2 linked regions of the Homo sapiens genome follow. The protein of the gene in region 1 interacts with the protein of each later gene in a pairwise test. Each region holds a gene or a part of one and is shown on either strand. Other genes may lie near its edges.

The links. The genes of interacting proteins can lie anywhere in the genome.
Region 2: the proteins of TMEM9B (region 1) and FKBP6 interact in binary tests that used the Homo sapiens proteins (3 or more experiments, as listed by UniProt).

What each region holds. Positions count from the first base shown.
Region 1 is NC_000011.10:8,953,991-8,961,926, forward strand, and holds part of TMEM9B (transmembrane protein 9B isoform a precursor), read right to left. Parts: intron 2,309-7,936; coding exon 2,200-2,308; intron 1-2,199. UniProt on the Homo sapiens protein: Enhances production of pro-inflammatory cytokines induced by TNF, IL1B, and TLR ligands. Has a role in TNF activation of both the NF-kappaB and MAPK pathways.
Region 2 is NC_000007.14:73,338,161-73,345,628, forward strand, and holds part of FKBP6 (inactive peptidyl-prolyl cis-trans isomerase FKBP6), read left to right. Parts: intron 1-2,477; coding exon 2,478-2,672; intron 2,673-3,095; coding exon of another isoform or gene 3,096-3,112; coding exon 3,113-3,222; intron 3,223-4,646; coding exon 4,647-4,737; 3' UTR 4,738-4,739; intron 4,740-7,468. UniProt on the Homo sapiens protein: Has an essential role in spermatogenesis. It is required to repress transposable elements and prevent their mobilization, which is essential for the germline integrity.

The sequences.
Region 1 (7,936 bases):
TAGTAAAAACCCAGACATAATCCAAACGTCCATCAACTGATAAATGCATATTCATATAGTGAAATACTATTCAGCAATAAAAAGAAACGAAGTACTGATACATGCTACAACTTGCATAAACATCAAAAACATTGTGCTAAATGAAAGAAGCCAGTCACAGAAGACTATATATTATATGATTCCATATACATGAAATGTCCATGTATGCAGAGACAGAAAGTAGACTAGTGACCGAGTAGGGCTGGAAATGGGAATTAACTGTAAATGGGCATGAGGGATCTTTTTGGGGTAGTGGGAATGTTCTGAAACTGGATTTTATTTTTTTTTTTTTGAGACAGAGTCTCACTGGAGTGCAGTGGCACGATCTCAGCTCACTGCAACCTCTGCCTCCAGGATCAAGTGATTCTCATGCCGTAGCCTCCCAAGTAGCTGGGACTACAGGTGCGTGCCACCACACCTGGCTAATTTTTATATTTTTAGTAGAGATGGGGTTTCACCACGTTGGACAGGCTGGTCTCGAACTCCTGACCTCAAGTGATCCACCCGCCTCGGACTTCCAAAGTGCTGGGATTATAGATGTGAGCCACCATGCCTGGCCTGAAACTGGATTTTAAAATGTTTTAAATCTACTAAAATTTATAGAATTGTATACTTATAGTGAGTGACTTTTAGGGTACATAAGTTGTATATTTTTTACAAATCTGTTAAATAATAGTACAGTGAGGATTTATCTAAAGTTCAGCACCCTGCTGGAGCAAGAGCTCTTCCACAGGGTCAATCACAGCAGAAATGTTTGTGACTATTATAACTAACCACCCCACATTCCCCACAGGGCCTTTTGGGGGGAAAGGAATGGGAAGTGCCATGTAAAAAAAAATTAGGCCAGGCGCGGTGGCTCACACCTGCAATCCCAGCACTTTGGGAGGCCAAGATGGGTGGACCACGAGGTCAGGAGTTCGAGACCAGCCTGACCAACATGGTGAAATCCTGTCTCTACTAAAAATACAAAAATTAGCTGGGCGTGGTGGTGCATGCCTGTAATCCCAGCTACTCAGGAGGCTGAGGCAGGAGAATCGCTTGGACCCAGGAGGCGGAGGTTGCAGTGAGCCAAGATTACACCACTGCACTCCAGCCTGGGCAATAGAGCAAGACTCCATCTCAAAAAAAAAAAAAAATTGGAAGAAAAACCATTAGCCACTATAATAAAGTAACTGAACTCATTAGAAATACAAATGGTGATGAGAGTGATCTACATCCCATTTACTACAGCAATACTCCACAACCTTTTTGGCACCAGGGACGGGACCAGTTTCATGGAAGACAATTTTTTCATGGACCAGGGGTGGTAGGGGATGGTTTGGGTATGATTCTAGCACATTACATTTATTGTGCACTTTATTTCTATTATTATTACATTATAATATATAATGAAATAATTATACAGTTCACCATAACATAGAATCAGTGGGAGCCCTGAGCTTGTTTTCCTGCAACTAGACGGTCCCATATGGGGGTGATGGGAGTCAGTGACAGATCATCAGGCATTAGATTCTCATTCTCATAAGGAGCATGCAGCCTAGATCCCTCACATGTGCAGTCCACAATAGAGTTCATGCTCCTATGAGAATCTAATGCTGCTGCTCATCTGACAGGAGGTGGAGCTCAGGTGGTAATGCGAATGATGGGGAGCAGCTGTAAATAAGATGAAGCTTTGCTCACTTGCCCACTGCTCACCTCCTGCTGAGTGGCCCAGTTCCTAACAGACCACAGACTGGGCTGTGGCCTGGGGGCTGGGGACCACTGTCCTACAGGAAATGAAGAGGGGAAATCTTAAAATCCAGAAGTAATAGTTCTAGAATAATTACTATATATTTAATTTTTTCAAAGGGCTGGAAAGGCAAGGAGAGGAGGGCTTATAAATGCTGCTCTCTCAGCCTCTGGCACACATGGCCTACACAGAAGCTGGGATATCTTTCTGGAATATGCTAATTACACATAGGGCATTTTTGTGCCATTTCACATATCTATCTAACATACCCTAACTAATCCACAAACCATGTCAGTGAGGCAGGCAGAACAGGCCCATTATTCCTTTTGGGGTAGGGGTCCAAATTTTTCTGTCTTGTCTAGAAACCATCCAGAAGCAGAAAAGACGTAGACAGACAGACAGACAGGTAGATAGAGGGATATATATTTTACCTTGATTGTGACAGAGCTTCTTTCTTCATATTTGCATTCACAGCGTAGACAGTATGCTTCTACATCAGGCCCCCGCACAGGCATGGGCTCCACAACATGAAGGCAATCACTGAAAAAACAAAGATAAAATGCTGCTTAAGCCCAGCTAGCTCTTCTGCTTGCTCTGACCAAAAGTTTCCTGAAATCTAGAATAATCACTAAACTTACCCAATGAAAGAGCATAAAAAACAAATAATCAATAAGATAAAGTAAAATAATTTCTGCTCTCAATATTAGCATTTTGGTAAGTTTTAACCATTTAAGAAGCCACAAAGTCACACATATAGTAGTGTCTATTTTCAAAGCTGCTACTGTTAACAGTTACAAAAACGCACACAAAAAATCCCAAATGGGATGAAAAACTACTTAACAAATCAAGTCACCTTTAGACTTGTTCAGTTACTAAGGAAAACTACTTAAAATGGTTTAAAGTGATATGGGGCACTGTTCAAATATAAGATTATCTCTTTTGTGAATTAACATCATTCTTTTTTGTTGTTGTTTTTTAAGAGACAAGGTCTTGCTCTGTCACATGGGCTGTAGTGGAGTGGTGCCATCATAGCTCACTGCAGCCTCAGACTCCTGGGCTCAAGTGATCCTCCTGCCTCAACCTCCAGAGCAGCTATGATTACAGGAGCCTGCCACCATGCCTGGCTAATTTTTAGATTTGTTGTAGAGATCAGGTCTTGGTTTGTTGACCTAACTTGTCTTGAATACCTGGCCTCAAGTGATCCTCCTATCTTGGCCTCCTAAAGTGCCGGGATTACAGGTGTGAGCCACCGTGCCCAGCCAACATCATTCTTAACTGCCAGTGTGGTGTATGAATGACTAACCACGTTTAACAGCGTGGTAAATTCTGAAACTCTGAAAATTGAACCCTCAAAGCCACACACAGGAAGAAACAATCACTTTTCTTAATGAGCAAATCTGAAAAAGCAAGGAGAAATAGAATAACTAAAATATTTTAAAACAAAAACTGGTTATTCCAAAGAACTAAATAAAAACTAACAAAGGGATGAGTGTTTTTGTTGAATGTTACTTATTTCCCCAACCCCATTTTCAAGGCTAATTATTTATGGTTTGTGTAAACACAGTGCTATCAGATTTTTCCTAGAAATCTGTCAATTCTAAGCAATAACTAAATTATTATTCTCCTCAACTATTAAGAGTCTATGACTCTGATCACCTTCAGCAAAATTAGGGAAAGCTTTCCTGTCCTCCTGCCAGCTGTTGGACAATTTTCTTTCCTTTTGGCATCTCTTCGTTAGGCATTCCTGGCTGCCTCAAGCACTCTACTACACCATCCTATCTTATCTTACCCATTCTCTTGGGGACACCCAATACTCTATAGAGTGATTCCTTCTCTTTCCCCACCAAAATGTACTTTTTGGAAACAAAGTTACAGCTTGGTGGGAGGAATAAGTTCTAGTGTTCTATATCCCTGTAGGATGACTATAGTCAACAATAATATATATTATAGTTTCAAATAGCTAGAAGGAGGATTTTGAATATTTTCAACACAAAGAAATGATAAATGTCTGAGATGCTAAATATTCTGATCAAATCACTATATCTTATATGAATTGAAACATCACTATGTATCCCATAAATACGTACAGTTATTGTGTCAATTAAAAATTAATTTCAGCCGGGCGCAGTGGCTCATGCCTGTAATCCCAGCACTTTGGGAGGCCGAGGCGGGAAGATCACCTGAGGTTGGGAGTTCGAGACCAGCCTGACCAACATGGAGAAACCCCGTCTCTACTAAAAATACAAAAAAATTAGCCAGGCATGGTGGTGCATGCCTGTAATCCCAGCTACTCAGGAGGCTGAGACTTGAGAATCGCTTGAACCTGGGAGGTGGAGGTTACGGTCAGCCGAGATCGTGCCATTGCACTCCAGCCTGGGCAATGACAGCGAAACTCCGTCTCAAAAAAAAAAAAAAAAAAAAAGGCCGGGTGTGGTGGCTCACGCCTGTAATCTCAGCACTTTGGGAGGCCGAGGCGGTTGGATCATGAGGTCAGGAGTTCAAGACCTGCCTGACCAACAGGGTGAAACCCCATTTCTACTAAAAATACAAAAAATTATCTGGGCATGGTGGCACATGCCTGTAATCCCAGCTACTCAGGAGGCTGAGGCAGGAGAATCACTTGAACCTGGGAGGCAGAGGTTGTAGTGAGCCGAGATCGCGCCATTGCACTCAGCCTGGGCAACAGAGTGAGACTCTGTCTCAAAAAAAAAAAAGTTAATTTCTAGAAATTCATATTTTCATGTTCTGTTCCCTCTAAACTGTGGCATTAGAAAAAATAACCAAAACGGTATATGATAGAAGTTGTTAGGTTATTCTTTTTTTTTTTTTTTGAGACAGAGTTTCACTCTTGTTGCCCAGGCTGGAGTGCAATGGTGTGATCTTCCTCAACACAACCTCTTCCTCCAGGGTTCAAGTGATTCTCCTGCCTCAGCCTCCCTAGTAGCTGGGATTACAGGCATGCGCTACCATGCCCGACTAATTTTGTATTTTTAGTAGAGATGGGGTTTTTCCATGTTGGTCAGGCTGGTCTCAAACTCCCAACTTCAGGTGATGTGCCTGCCTCGGCCTCCCAAAGTGCTGGCATTACAGGCATGAGTCACCGCACCCGGCCCAGGTTATTCTTAACAGGTAATTTAATTTTAACAAAGGTAGTAATGAAAAATTAAATTTCCACTGATGGTATTTCAAATACGGGTAAGGCCCCACAACTCTCACCATAAAAGTGTGTGATATCTGTTCCAAATATACAGAAGACCAGGCATGTACCCAACTGGATGCAGGCACAAAATGGGCAGAGGGAACTATATCCCATAACAGGTGTTATCTATCTGAGGATCAGAGAGCTCATCTAGCCTCAGGCTTAGAGAAGGTCACAGAGTAAAATCATATTTGAAAAAGGATCAGGCCACGCATGGTGGCTTATCCCTATAATCCCAGAGTTTTAGGAGGCCAACATGTGAGGATCACTTGAAGCCAACTTGAGACCAGCCTGGGCAACATAGTGAGACCCAGTGTCGACAAAAATAAAAATTAGCCAGGTTGATGGTACACACCTGTAGTCCCAGCTACACAGGAGGCTGAGGCTGGAGGACCACTGGAGCCTAGGAGATCAAGGCTGCAATGAGCTATGATCGTGCCACTGCACTCTAGCAATAAAAAAAACAGAAAGGACCAGAATCCAGGACTCCTGCTTCCTACGTCAGTTCTTTACCTCTGAACCTCGGGAAAATGAAACTGATCTATTTAGTTTCCTACTTCAGCTTCAGAAGCTTTGGCAACAATACCTAAGAATGACTTGGGAATTTTAAGTGCTAAGTAAGTATTGAGTATTTCTTTTGAAGGATATATTTTAATAACAAAAAGATACTTGAGTGCTGTGCAAAAGTTGTGCCCAGCTGGAGAGAAAGCAGGAAGGTTGATTTTGGCTGACCAGTCATTACAAACAGAGCTAGACCTAGTCAGAGGTTAACCACTTAAGGAACTAGGCAACACCTCCCCCTAGTGCCAAAAGTAACACATCATTAGCTTTAAATCACCCCAAACACAAACTAGAGCACTCCAACTACTCTTAAGTTTTAAGTCAGCCAGCATAAGTCAATGAAGACTTAAAGATAAAAACTGGACAAAATGAAAGGCCCAGAAAACAAAAGGTAAAACTATATCTAGGCCCTCACAGATACTGGAGGCCTCGTAAAGCCATAATTCTGGTGAATCATAACTTGCCTGCCCCGTAAAGTCAGTTAAAATTTTTCAGTGCCAGCTGGGAACTTATCCCTAGAAAAATGCTAAGCTGCAGAAAAGAAACAAGGGAGAGTGGGAGAGAGGGAAGAAAAACCCCAAGCAAGCCTTATTCTCAACTGTTTATTTTCTTTGTTTCTGTTTTTTTTTTTTTTTTTTTTTTGAGACAGAGTCATGCTCTGTCACCCAGGTTAGAGGGCAGTGGCACAATCTCAGCTCACTGCAACCTCTACCTCTGCGGCTCAAGCGATTCTCTACCTTAGCCTTCCGAGTAGCTGGAATTACAGGCGTGTGCCACCATGCCCAGCTAATTTTTATATTTTTAGTAGAGTCGGGGTTTCACCATGTTGGCCAGGCTGTTCTTGAACTCCTGGCCTCAAGTGATCCACCTGCCTTGGCCTCCCAAAGTGCTGGGATTACAGGTGTGAGCCACCATGTCCTGCCTCAACTGTTTTCAAAGCCAAAGCTATTTTTACTAATAACCAGGGGTTAATGACATATGGTCCTGTCTGAGTCTGAAATAATGAAAAGTTAGTGAAAAGATTAGTGCTAACCACTTGAATAGTGAGTTCATTTGCTACTCAAAAGACAGGCATTGCATTTCATTACTGATAACAGAATAAACTGTAAGCACTGAATAAATTTGGAAAATTTATAGAAGTAACATAAAGATTTATTTGAACATTCTTTTTTTTTTTTTTTGAGCTAGGGTCTCGCTCTGTCACCCAGGCTGGAGTGCAGTGGCGCGATCTCGGCTCACTGCAAGCTCTGCCTCCCGGGTTCAAGCGATTCTCCTGCCTCGGCCTCCCGAGTGGCTGGGATTACAGGCACCCGCCACCAAGCCCGGCTAATTTTTTTTGTATTTTTAGTAGAGACAGGGTTTCACTCTGTTGGCCAGGCTGGTCTCGAACTCCTGACCTCAGGTGATCCGCCTGCCTCAGCCTCCCAGAGTGCTGGGATTACAGGCGTGAGCCACCGTGCCCGGCCTGAACATTCTTGTATCATATAAAGTAACTTCCTGATATAAAACCTTTAAGAATATGGCCAAATCGCTTGGTTAATATGACACCACTTACAGTGGAACATAGAGGTTCACAAGAAGTTCTCAAGAACACACTTAACAAATATGAGACTGAACCTAAATGCGTATCAGGGAAGAACAGACAGTGGCATCAGAGAAACTAAACATACTCAAAGGCTGCCTTTTCTTTTTTAAAGTCAGGTTGGAATACTGTTAACTGAATGAATTTAATCTTGCTTTCTAACTCTTTGATGGCTATTTAGCTATGAAATCAGATACACGTGAAAGCTCCTACCATTTGGAACTATTTTTCCTAAATTCCTATCCCATCCATCTTCCACCGTGGTTACAAACCATAAAACATCACAATTCTATGGGAAGGAACACATTCATCCTGCTGTAATACAACTGCATCCCAACTGCTTCATGGCACACGTAGAAAAAGCTATTTGTCAGGTCTGCTGGGATAAGCAGAGAAGGCTGCTGGTGGCTAGTCAGTCAGGATCCCCCAGTCATCACAGGCCTGCCTGACTGCCCAAGGACTGAACAGGTCAATATCTTGGCACAACTGTAACTTCTTCATTTACACCAAATGGGAAACTCTGACTACATAGCTCATTTCCACTTCTTCTTGAGCCTTCTGACACTTTTAAACATAGCTTCCCATACTTGGCAATACATCATCAAAACCTACAAGTTGTAAAAATTATAACCCAGACAAACGAGGCTTGCTAACCTTCCACTGAAAAGCAAGAGGGAGAAAGGTCCCTCACCAAAACTTGAGGGAGTACAGCAAGATAGCTATGGGTAGTTTAGGTGCCACAAACCCAGTCATATGCTCCCATGAAACTCTGCCTACATGGGTCTTAGTGTTTTGGCTGTATACCTTTAGGCCTGCAGGCATCATG
Region 2 (7,468 bases), on another chromosome or scaffold:
GATTACAGGCACCTGCCACCACACCTGGCTAATTTTTGTATTTTTAGTAGAGACAGGGTGTCACCATGTTGGCCAGGCTGGTCTTGAACTTCTGACCTCAGATGATCCGCCCACCTCAGCCTCCCAAAGTGCTGGGATTACAGGCATGAGCCACCGCACCCGGACCCTCGTTCTTTTGTAAGGCTACTTTTCCGTTGGATGGCTCTGCTGCTTTTTGTCCATTCATCAGTTGGACATGTGGGTTGTTTCCACTTCGTGATTATTATGACTGATGCAGTGAGCGTTTATGTACAAGTTGTCGTGTGAACACGTTTTCAGTTTTCTTGGGTATGTGCCTAGGAGTGCAATTGCTGGATTGTGTGGGAACTGTCAAAATTTTTGAGGAACTGCCAAACTGCTTCCTACAGCAGCTGTACCATCTTACATTCCCACGAGTAATGTGCGAAGCTTCCAATTTCTCCACATCTTCACCAACACTTATTTTATATTTTTAAAGTTAGGCATCTTAGCGGATGTGAAGTGGTATCTCACTGTGGTTTTGATTTGCATTTCCCTGATGACTGATGACATTGGACATATTTTCATGCATTTAATGACTATTTGTCTATCTTCTTTGGAAAAATGTCTATTCGGAGTCTATGCATATCTGAAAGTTGGGTCATCTGTCTTTGTACTGAGGAGTAAATGTTGCTGCTGTGCTCTGGATACTACACCCTCAACAAACACAGGATGCGCAAATGCTCTATGCTGTTCTGTGGGCTGTCTGCACTTTCTTTGCAGTGTCCATTGAAACACAAAAGTTTTACATTTTGATGAAGTCTAATTCTTTGCTTATTTGTGCTTTTGGTGTTATATCTAAGAAACCATTTTCTAATCCAGGGTCACAAAAATTTACACCTATTTGTACTTCTAAAGTCTGATAGTTTTTTAAAAAAATATATGAAATGCTTTATGAATTTGCATGTCATCTTTGCACAGGGGCCATGCGATCTTCTCCCTGTCTTTCCAATTTTTAGTATATGTGCTGCCGAAGCCAGCGCAGAGTCTTAGAGTTTTAACTCCTACTTTTAGGGCTATGCTCCACTTTAGTTAATTTTTGCATCTAGTGCAAGGTAAACATTCTTTTGCATGTTGATAGTCTCTCGTCCCAGCATTATTTGTTGAAAAGACAGTTCTCTCCCATTGAATGGTCTGGACACCCTTATTGAAAATCAGTTGACTGTAGATATATAAATCTATTTCTGGACTCTGTGTTCAATTTCATTGATCTACATGTCTGTCCTTATGCCGGTGCTACACTGGCGTAATTACTGTAGCTTTAGGAAGTTTCGTGTTTTTTGTTTATTTTTTGTCTTTTAGTAAGTTTTGAAATGGGAAATATGAGTTCTCCAGCTTTGTCCTTTCTCAAGAGTATTTTGGCTATTCAGGGTCCTTTGAATTTCCATGTGACTCTTTTTTTTTTTTTTTTTTTGAGGTGGAGTCTTGCACTGTCACCTAGGCTGGAGTGCAGTGGTGTGGTCTCGGTTCACCACAACCTCCGCCTCCCATGTTCAAGTGATTCTCCTGCCTCAGCCTCCAATGTAGCTGGAATTACAGGCACCTGCCACCACACCCAGCTGATTTCGTATTTTTAGTAGAGATGGGGTTTCACCATGTTGGCCAGACGGGTCTCGAACTCCCGACCTCAGGTGATCTGCCCGCCTCAGCCTCCCAAAGTGCTGGGATTACAGGCATGAGCCACTGTGCCTGGCCACCATATGAATTATCTAATCAACTTGTCTGTGTCTACAAAAAAGGCTGTTGAAATTTTGGTAGGGTTGCATGAATATGTTGACCAGTTAGGAAAATATTACCATCTTAATATTGTCTTCCAATTAATGAACATGAGATATTTTTCCATTTTATTTGAATCATCTTTAATTTCTTTCAACAACCATTTTGTAGTTTTCAGTGTGCAAGTCTTTCAGTTGTTTTAAGTTTATTGCTACTTACTGTATTCTTTTTGATGCTATTGTAAATGGAGTTGTTTTCTTAATTTCATTTTTGGGTAGTTCGTTGCTAGAGCATAGAAATATACCTGACTTTTGGCCGGGCATGGTGGCTCACGCCTGTAATCCCAACACTTTGGGAGGCTGAGGCAGGTGGATCACGAGGTCAGGAGATCGAGACCATCCTGGCCAAAATGGTCATATTAAAATATGAAAAAATTAGCCGGGCATGGTGGTGCACACCTGTAGTCCCAGCTACTCAGAAGGCGGAGGTTGCAGTGAGCTGAGATCACTCCAGCCTGGCGACAGAACAAGACTCCGTCTGAAAAAAGAAGAAAAAAGAAATATACCTGACTTCTTATGTTGATCTTGTGTCTTGCAACCTGTAACAGCCGATTTTTAGCTCTGATAGTTTTTGCGTGTGGATTCTTTAGGGTTTTGTACATAAGACTGTTACTCCTCTTGACCATCTGCCTTCCCTCTCCACAGGCCCTATTGCTTCTGCGCCGGCGATCAGCACCCCCTGAAGAGCAGCACCTGGTGGAGGCCGCCAAGCTTCCTGTTCTCCTGAACCTGTCCTTTACATACCTGAAGCTAGACCGACCCACCATAGCCCTGTGCTATGGAGAGCAGGCTTTGATCATTGACCAAAAGAATGCCAAGGCCCTCTTCAGGTGTGGACAGGTGAGTTGGAAGCCAGTGACTTGGGAATAAACACCCAGGAAAAGGTAGTAGCAGTGCTCAACTCAGCTACTGCAAAAATGCTGTCTTTTTTTTTTTTTTTTTTTTTTTTAGACAGAGTTTTGCTCTTGTTGCCCAGGATGGAGTGCAGTGGCGCAAATTCGGCTCGCTGCAACCTCCGCTTCCTGGCTTCAAGCAATTTTCCTGCCTCAGCCTCTCAAGTAGCTGGGATTACAGGCATGCGCCATCACACCCAGCTAATTTTTGTAGTTTTAGTAGAGATAGGGTTTTGCCGTGTTGGCCAGGCTGGTCTGGAATCCCTGACCTCAGTTGATCCGCCCGCCTTGGCCTCCCAAAGTGCTGGGATTACAGGCATGAGCCACCGTGCCCAGCCAAATGATATCTTTTCTAACTGTGCTTTTAAAGTTCTCTCCTTGGGACAGGCTTGTCTTCTCCTGACTGAGTATCAAAAGGCCCGGGATTTTCTAGTTCGAGCCCAGAAGGAGCAACCCTTCAATCATGACATCAATAATGAGCTGAAGAAACTGGCTAGGTGAGCTGTGTTTGCAGGAGCATGAAGAGAGATGGGTGGGGTTGTGACTCTGGTCTGTCCCCCCACCCCCCCCAACAAAGGACAGTCTGGCGGTGTTGCCCAGAGTGTTAGGAGGCCGCCCCCTCTACAGCTGGGTTTCTGAAGTGCTCGGCCGTGCGCTGCACCAGCAGTTCCCAGCAAGCAGGTGAGACAGACTGCCAGACTATACATCTCCATCATCGCCCACCTTTCTGTTTCCCCTACCGCAAATAAACAACCCCTAGAGAGGTGGGAGGGTGTCACTTTTTTTTTTTTTTTTTGAGATGGAGTCCCTCTCTGTCACCTAGGCTATAGGGCAATGGCATGATCTCGGCTCACTGCAACCTCCGCGTCCCGAGTTCAGACGATTCTCCTGTCTCAGCCTCCAAGGTAGCTGGGATTACAGGCGTGTACCACCACATCTGGCTAATTGTTTTTGTATTTTAGTTGAGACAGGGTTTCACCGTGTTGACCAGGCTGGTCTCAAACTCCTGACCTCAGGTGATCCCCCCACCTCGTCCTTCCAAAGTGCTGGGATTACAGGCACAAGCCACCACAACTGGCCCCGGTGTCACTTAAAAAGAGTCTTCTGGTGCGCTCTTCCCTGCGTGCTCCACCAAGAACCACTGCTCCTAACCAAGTGCAGAAAGGCCCCTCGTAGGTCCTCATGTGACCAGAAACAGGCGTTTCGGGTCTGACTCATACCCATGGATTGACCTCCTTGTTACCCACGTGACTAAGCACACCAGTCTTTTAGTGATGTAATTTTTTCTCATTATAGAAGTTTTGTGTCCATTGTAGAAAACCTTGAAAATGTCTACCTATAAATAGGAGTCCCCCATAACTCCATCACTTGGTAATAGGTCCATGGTTTTTAAGGTATATCTTCTTCTGTAATGGTGAAATTCTCTACTTGTCTTAATATTAAACATTCGGTCCAGATTGCTAGTTAAAGCTTGCTTGGCATTAGTGTCTGAGATGTGAGTATCTCTTAGGTTACATTTCAAGCCTTTTAGGACTTGCCAGCAATTTCCTTTCTGGTATTTAAAAGTATCCTGTCAGATCTGGTCATTCTTTAGTGAGAAAATCAGGAGAGGTTAGAGGCTGCTGAGGGTGAGGGGTCGTTTGGCGAGACTCAGCCCGGAGCCTGGTGGCCAGAGGCACCTGCCCTTCAAGGCAGCTGTCCTTTCCAGTTAGGGGGTTTTGTCCAGGGGCTTGGCTCCTTGGCCAGCTGTGGGAGCCTTCCCTGCCTCCCCACCTCTCCAGCTTACTTCCATCCCTCCCAACTCAGTTTGAGTCCTGATAAATTTTCAGTGTTTCTGGATGTGAGTGGAGAATTCCAGCCACCAGATGTCACCTCCTCCAAACACAGACCTCCTCTAACAAGTGTGTATTTCCCTCTCCAGCTGTTACAGGGACTATGTGGATAAAGAGAAAGAAATGTGGCACCGCATGTTCGCGCCCTGTGGCGATGGTTCTACAGCAGGAGAAAGTTGAAGGTAATCAAAGGGCCAGGGTGGCACACAGGCTTCCGGATGGAGAAGCGTGCTGCTCTCCTCCACCCCCAAGTGAATGGTGGCTGTCTGCAGCTGAGGGTGGACGAGGGGTAGACAAGTTCCTTGCTGTAAAGAACAACACAACGGTAGTGCAGGATGCACGTGCTGCACGCCTACCTTTCCCGTGAGAAGAAAGTTCGCCCAGACCTGTGGGTTAAATGTATAGGTTCAGGGGGCCTTGAGCTATTTATTTATTTATTTGTTTGTTTGTTTGTTTGAGGCAGAGTCTCACTCTGTTGCCCAGGCTGGAGTGCAGTGGTGCGATCTCAGCTCACTGCAAGCTCCGCCTCCCAGGTTCAAGCGATTCTTCTGCCTCAGCCTCCTGAGTAGCCGAGATTACAGCTGTGAGCCGTGGCGCTCAGCCTAAATTTATTTTTTAAAAAACCTTTTTTTTTCATGTTTTATGTGAAACTCTCCTTGCAGTTGCTTGGAACATGAGACTGAGTAGAGTCATGAATGTGATGGTTGATAGAGCTGGGCTTTGACGTGTCAAGCTTCTGTTCATCTTCTTTCTCCTGAGAACTCGAAAGCCTCCAACTTGACTGTGTCTCTAACACATTACTAAAGCAGACAAGATCGCAGGGTGGGGATGGGCTGTGGCTCTTAAATTCTACTTTCTATTAGACTTAGAGATTTGAAGATGCTGAAAGCAACAGGGAGCGGAATATAGCATTCCTCCCAAGATCACACCTAGTAATTTTGCAGGCACAGGGCGGGAGTTCCCAAGCACATGAGATAACCCTCCAGTCTGAACCCTCCAGTCTGGTCTACTATTTAATAAAATTAATGGAAACAAAATCACCTGCCTGAAACACCTGCTTAGCTGCACAGATAACTCTGCTCTCTCGGAGAAGTCAAACAAGGAACAACAAGAAAACAGCTGCTGAACGGGCTCATGGTGATAAATCTCTCCTTTGTTGCTTCCTCCATCTCCCTACAAAAGGGGCTTGAGAGGAGGAGGCAGTGAAAAGGCCTATTCATCCCCGACATTTTCATAGCGGTCCATAAACTGCTGCTATCTGCACTTTCAGATGCGCCCACCAGCATCACAGGTAAATGTTGCCTTCGTCACTGATGCTGGCCATGTGAACCCTGGCCTTCAGGTCTTTCAGTGGCCTTTGGAGTACATATTTGCAGGTCTTCAGAACTGAGATGTGAGCCAGAGGACTTCCCTTGTTTGGTCACTTCTAGTATCCAGTAAAAATGAAGGGCAGTGACTGTTTGCCAAACATTTTGGACTGTGACCCCACAAGTCCTGTCATGAATGAAGACCCAGGTCTGCCAGGGTCCATCCCAGACAAGGGCTTGGGCAGCCCAGCTGGGCAGCAGTTTTCCTCGCCATCATGTTTGCTTCCCAGCCTTTTCAGTCTGTAGGACTGGAGGCTGCTGATCTTCAGATGCTTTCCCCCAGATTTCCAACTCCAGCATTTATCTTACCATCAGCAATGACTGTATTTGTGTTCTAAAGTAGCCACCACTGTCATATTGCCACTGCTGTCACAGTTGTGATAAGTTTTAGCTTTTGTGTCTTTGCTCTCCCTGCTCCCCTTTTTTTCTGTAGTATTTGAGGCCTAGTCATTTAAAAGAAGCTAAAAATCCAGTCATCTTGACAACCTAGTTGTCACTAACCAGGACAATTTTTTTTTTTTTAAGGGTCTCCCTCTGTCACCCAGGCTGGAGTGCAATGGCACAATCTTGGCTCACTGCAGCCTCTGCCTCCCAGATTCAAGTGATCCTCCTGCCTCAGCCTCCCGAGTAGCTGGGACTGCAGGTGTGAGCCACCACGCCTGGCTAATTTTTGTATTTTTAGTAGAGACAGGGTTTCACCATATTGGTCAGGCTGGTCTCAAACTCCTGACCTCAGGTGGTCCTCCCGCCTTGGCCTCCCAAAGTGCTGGGATTACAGGCCTGAGCCACTGCACCTGGCTTAGGACAATTTTAACTTTTGTTCTTTTCATCTTAGATGTTAGATACCACTGACTTGTAAGATTACTTCTGGAGGAATGAGTGTTCTCTTAAGTATTAGTTATGTGCTCTAAGCCTCTGACTATAGTAGACAGTATGCCTTTTCCATCTTTGCATTTTCTAGCTTCTGGAGCCATGCCAGGTGCACGATTGGTGCTCAGGAAATGTTGGTTGGACTAAGTGTGAAATAGCCGAAGCAACAGACCAGCCTCTAATAAAACATCCTCCAGGCTGGCTCTGGGATTGGCTGTTGGACCCTTGGTATTGCCAGGGACAGAAACCTATCTTTAGCATCAGCCAGAAAAAAAAAAAAAAAAAAAAAGATTTGCAGAAGGGGTCCTGGGAGTGGCTCACAGAGTTGAGGAGGAGTTTGGCAGTCCTTGGGCAGACAGTGACCAGGCAGCTCTGAGGGCCTTAGGGACTCAGTCTCCCCTCGGCTTTGTTTTCTCCCCCTGTAGGGAGTGCCCATACATCCCTTTCTGCAACCTCCTCCCTAATGGAGTGAGAGTTCTGTACCCTAAAAGTCCCTCCTCTTCCTGCCCCAAACATAACTCTTCAGTTTGAAAGATCCTGGGCAGGACTCCGGCCTGGTTGGGGGTATGTAGAACCCCATGAATGGGAGTTTGTGTTTTGTCCTTCCTATCCTGACATGCTGGTATCTGAGGCCCTTGTGATCATTTTACTGTGTCTGGAAAGGAGCTGTGAAG